Regions from separate parts of the Homo sapiens genome. Here region 1 is linked to region 2. Evidence: fine-mapped expression QTL. A gene starts in region 2. The other region holds a variant in brackets. All regions are shown on one strand. Distances are from middle to middle.

Region 1 (2,929 bases), 300 kb after region 2:
AATACTTAATTGGTCGATATATATATATATATATAACTTAATAGCTAGTTAGACTCCAAACACTATATGTTCCTGATGTAAAAACCAGCAACTTTTTATATAATTACTTTGCAGATTTTCTGTGGTTCAAGGCAGTGACAGCCATATCCTGCTTGCATGAGGCAAGTATAGACTGCAGCCTTGAATCCGTTTTCATTCAGGTCCATCATCTTGAAGTACCAAAGTATAGTAATGGTTATGACAGTTAAGATTGTTTGGCACCAGGTGACCTTATTATTCTTGCAAATATGAAGCTTAAAATTGTACCATATATAGAAAGTTCAGGTAAATTTGCAATGGTATGATGTAGTACTTGTTAGTCTTAAATTACCATTGGTGTAAGATAATATTATGGTAATGGTTATAACTAAATAATAAAGATACTTTTCATATGAGTTTTTATAAGACTTGTGCTGCCACAAGAATTGCTGAAAGTGACCTCACATGCTCACCTTGTGTTGCCTGTATATTAGCAAATTGAAGGTAGGGATTCCCTTACCAAATCATCTTCCCATAGGCCTGAGGCTTCCTCCCCCAACAGAAGGATTTCTTGAGATCCAAGATCTCTAGGTTTTGAAATGCTAGTATTTCCAGAACACCTTTGGAAATAGATGGACCCTAAATCCATCCATTCGTTTATTCCTTCAGTGATGATACTGTTTCCCTATACTTGTTATATGAAAAAGGAAACTCATATTAGAGGGGACTCAATGATTTAACAGGCTCAGAGATTGAGCACATTTCTCTGTGGAATGAATGATAAGAGGATAAGGGGTTCCTAAAACTTTGCTTGCTGACCTTGGGCATACACAGATTTTCTCAATAAAGTGTATTCCTTAACTCATGTTATACATTCTGAAATTTATCCAGACTTCTGCTGCACTACAGGTAAAGACGAAGAAACGATATAATTTGTATGGCAATACTCTTTGTGATTGTTCAAACTTAAATTATAGTTTCTGTGTTGAAAAATGGCTATACATTGACTTTTAAAAATAAATTTTATTGTGCATATTTAAGGTATAAACACGTTGTGGTATAAATAAAGATAGTAAAGAAATTACTATAATGAAGCAAATTAGCACATCTATCATCTCAAATATTTACCCACAGTTTTGCTTTTGTGGCAAGAACCACTTAAATCTACTCATTTAACATCAATCTCTTACATGGTACAATTTTATTACCTATGGCCCTCATGCTATACATTAGCTCTCTAGACTTATTTTGTTTTCCTTGTATATTTAATTTTTTTTGGATTCTACATCTAAGTGAGACCATGCACCATTTTTCTTACTGCATCTTGCTTATTTCACTTAGCATAATATTCTCCAGACTTATCCAGTTGTGGCAAATGGCAAGATCTCATTCTTTATTAGGTGTGAATAATATTACATTGCATATATGTACCATGGTTTCTTTATCCATTCATCCACTGATGAAAACTTAGGTTGTTTACATATCTTCACTACTGCAAATAATGTTGCAATGAACATGGAAGTGAAGGTATATTTATGAGGTAGTTATTTCATTTCTTTTGGGCATATGCCCAAAGGGAGATTGCTGGGGCATATGGTAG[T/A]TCTCTTTTTAATTCCTTTAGAAATCTCCATACTGTTTTCCATAATGGCTATGCCAATCTATATTCCTACCAATAGTGTGTAAGAGTTCCCTTTTCTTTACACTCTTGCCAACATTTGTTGTCTTTAGGATTTTTCTAATGGGTGTGAGATAGTATCTGACAGTGGTTTTGACTTGCATATTCTTGATGGTTAATAATGATGAGTACCTTTTCGTATAATGGTTGGCTATTTTATGTCTTCCTTAGAGAAATGTCTATTCATGTCTTTTGCCCATTTTTAATCAGGCTATTTGTTTCTTCACTATTTAGTTATATAAATTTTTATAAATTTTGAATATGAACCACATATGAGATATATGGTTTGCAAATATTTTTCCCAATCTGTAGGTAATTCATTCATCTTGTTGATTGTTTCCTTTGCCATACAGAAGTGTTTGGTTTGATGTAGTCTCCTATGTTTATTTTTGCTTTTGTGGTCTGAGTTTTTGGTGTAATAGCCAAAAAACTGTTGCCAAAGCCAATACCCAGGAGCTTTTCCCCTATGCTATTTTCCAGGAGTTTCATAGTTTCTTATCTTAAATATTTGGGTCTTTCATCCATTTTGAGTTGATATTTGTTTATGATTTAAGATAAAGATTTAATTTCATTCTTTTGCATGTGGACCTCCAGTTTTCCCAGCACCTTTGTTTGAAGAACTCTCCTCTCCCCGTTGTGTCCTCTTGGTGTCCCTGTCAAAAATGAGTTGACCTTATATGTTTCTATTTCTGGAGTTTGAATCTGTTTCTGGAGTTTGAATCTATTCTGTTCCACTTGTCTATGTGTCTGTTTTTATGCCAGTACAATACTCTTTTGATTCCTTTAGCTTTGGAATACACAGTAATTTTAAACCAGGGAGTCTGATGCCTCCAATTGTGTTTTTCTTTCTCAAAATTGTTTTGGCTATTCAGGCCTTTCATGGTTCCACACAAATATTAAGTGTTAAGTGTTTTTTTTTTTTTTTTTGGAAAGCCTTTTGTTCTGTCCTCCAGGTTGGAGCACAGTGGCACGATCTCAGCAGCTCACTGCAAGCTCCGCCTCCTGGGTTCACGCCATTCTCCTGCCTCAGCCTCCCGAGTAGCTGGGACTACAGGCGCCCACCACCACACCTGGCTAATTTTTAGTATTTTTAGTAGAGACAGGTTTCACCGTGTTAACCAGGATGGTCTCGATCTCCTGACCTCGTGATCTGCCTGCCTCGGCCTCCCAAAATGCTGGGATTACAGGTGTGAGCCAGTGTGCCTGGCCAAATTTTAAGGTTTTTGAAACTTTCTG
Region 2 (2,929 bases):
CAATGAATGTTAACTTTAGTTATTATTATTACTATCTTTTTTCAATATCCTTCCCATCATCCCCTCTGCCACTGGCCCAGATCATCATCAACTCTCACCTAAATTACTGTAATTGCCTCTTAACTAAACATCTTTCCTCTAATCTTGCATTCGCCAATATATTCTCTACCTAGGAGCAAAGTTTTTTGAACTCAAAGTAAATCATGTCTTTCTCCTGCTAAAACCTACTAAAGACTTCCCATAGCTTTTAGAGTAATATCCAAATTCCTCAACATGCACATAAGGACTGCTTTTTACCTCAAAGGAAGGTACAGCACAGTCTGTTATCCCGTAAGTTCCAGCTCAACTTTCGTGATCTGTCAGAACCAAAAGCTCTCTCATGTTCACACATCACAATGCTAATATCACACCTATTAATTTTAATTGGAGATCAGGTGATTGATCTGTCAGACCCCACAGAAATGTGATTATCTTTAGTTCCGGGACTATATTTATTCATCTTTGTACCTCAGAAACTTACTCCAATGTTTCACACACGAATTTGATAATTGTTCGCTAAATAAGTACTGAATAAGAATAACTTATTGAAATATTCAATCTCAAATGTTATGACAAAGATAAAAACCATACCTAAACCAGTTCTCATAAATAAACTCAACACTTAAAAACTGCATTCCTTTTAGTAGGAAAAAGCATTCTGAGTTATAGAAATTCTTACCTGAATATATTTCTTGCTATAATTGTAACCTGGCTGTAGGGATCCGAAATCTACTTTATGTAATTTACTCAGCGGCTGAACTTCAGGCACCCCATTGACTTCCTTTATTAATTCAAGTGGCATATCAGTTCTGCTTCACACTGATGTCCAAAGCAAATTCAACTAGGGAATCTGACAACTTGCTGCTGAAAATACAAAACCAGTGTTTTACCCAAAATGAAGTCAATAATTTGCTTTAAGTCTCTTTGACTTAGTTATGCTTTTCCTTATTATAGTTAACACGGTTCGGGGTTGGGGGGTGACAGGAGGATGGATTATTTTACAATTTTATTGCAAAGATCAATACAAAACATTCTTCCAAGGAACTGAAACTTAACCATTTTCTACTTAGCTGCGTAAAGTACCTCCAAAAAGCCAGTTTTAAGATCTGTAACGTCACTAACAAACGCTTTTAACATTGTGCTTTAAAATGTAAAATTTATTGGGGAAGAGGGAGGCTGAAAAATCGTGTTTTTTTTTAACCCCCACGGGAGCTGTAATATTGTATAGACAAACTGTGCACCAAAAGCATCGTACTCCAACATGTTTCTGTGGCCCCCTCCCTTCACCCGCTAAATAAATGAAGAAACAAAAATTACTGAACTGAGATTAACTTCTGCATCGTAGGCTCAACCTTATTTCACAGACCTCTTGACGGGGACACTCACTAGTGTCGATATCTAATTTTAATGTTTGCGCACCAACCTTCCCCCAAGCCACCTGAGCTCTGTGAGGGCGGGGACTTGGACTTAACTCCTGTCTGCTTCTCCCAAAACACCAAGAAAGATGCTGAACACAGCAGGCTCGAGATAAACACTCGTAAGAAAGCGTTTCTCTGCGATAATTACATCAAATTTTGATCTAAACTAATTCAATCCCGGGCCCGTTACGTCTGGCACCCACTCAAATGAACACACCAAACCTTACAAATTTCACTCACCCGTACTCTAGAAAGAACCCTAGGAAGAGTTTAGGCGGGCGCGCAGGTGACGTCACACGCACGCTGACGGTTCAGCTCCACGCATGCGTGCAGGATCCCTGGGCATAGTCGCTTGTTCTCCGCCCGCGGTGGACCAGCTGCGTAACGGTTCACACACTGATGGCGCCTGGAGGTTTGGCGAAATACTGACAGGATGCGACGTCAACGGGAGCGCAGGGCCAAGGTACAGGCCCCGCCCAGTCCGGTCACATCCCCCGGAATTCTCGCAGCTCCCCTTAGCTCCGCCCCCAGTGACTTTCCAGCTTTCGTGGCGGGAGGCAAGCTTAGGGGAAGCGGGCGGGTCCGCTGGGCGGGATTTGAGCTTCCCTTTGGTAGATTCGAAGCTCCTGTAGGCAGAGCCTTTCTTTTAATGTCCAGTTCTCTTCCTCCAAGAAATAGGCACCTACTGCAGTCTTTACAAGGAAGCATTTACAAGGATAACAATGTTATTTGGGAGTTTTTATAGTAATTTCGGGCATTGGCATAATGCCACCATTGAGTCTTGCTATTTACAGACAGATTTGATTAACCTTGTCATTGTTTTATAGGGCCATGATTTTGTGGTATAATTAATATTTATTATAATTTATTTTATAGGTTTATTATAGTTTATTTAATATTTATTATAACTTATAATTGATAAATATTATAATTTATCATTTATAATGATAAATTGTTAAACATGAATTCTCTGCTAATTCCAGATATATGCCTTCAATCATTTAAGTGAAATCATCCTAGTGTGAAACTAAATGTAATAAAGAATTACATGAATATTTCCAAGGCTAATTTGAACTAAAATATCTTCTTTATATACATATTTGCAGGAGGATATAGCTAACTTTTTTTTTTTTTTTGAGACGGAATCTCGCTCTGTCACCAGGCTGGAGTGCAATGGCGCAATCTCGGCTAACTGCAACCCCCACCTCCCGGGTTCAAGCAATTCTTCTGCCTCAGCCTCCCTAGTAGCTGGGATTACAGGCGCAGGCCACCATGCCTGGCTAATTTTTGTATTTGTTTAGTAGAGACGGGGTTTCCCATTTTGGCCAGGCTGGTCTCGAACTCCTGACCTTGTGATCCGCCCACCTTGGCCTCCCAAAGTGCTGGGATTACAGACATGAGCCACTGTGCCCAGCCAGCTATGTTTGAAGTGCCTTTTTAATCAACAGGAAGCATTCAGTATTAGCCCATCT

Evidence for each region. PIP is the estimated chance that this variant, and not a neighbour inherited with it, causes the effect.
Region 1: its variant is fine-mapped to the expression of POT1-AS1 in blood mononuclear cells (TOPMed, PIP above 0.99).

What each region holds. Positions count from the first base shown.
Region 1 is chr7:125,225,451-125,228,379 of GRCh38, forward strand. All of the region lies in intron 3 of LOC101928283 (a long non-coding RNA gene), which reads left to right. Among named protein-coding and RNA genes, the nearest start is that of LINC02830, 73 kb to the left of the region's middle. The variant T/A (reference allele first, on the strand shown) is at 1,619.
Region 2 is chr7:124,928,097-124,931,025 of GRCh38, forward strand. POT1-AS1 (POT1 antisense RNA 1) reads left to right here and starts at 1,777. Exons shown (of 8, transcript NR_125719.1): 1 at 1,777-1,920. POT1 (protection of telomeres 1) reads right to left here and starts at 1,729. Exons shown (of 19, transcript NM_015450.3): 1 at 1,698-1,729; 2 at 719-903. RefSeq lists enhancers at 1,665-1,964, 1,719-2,013.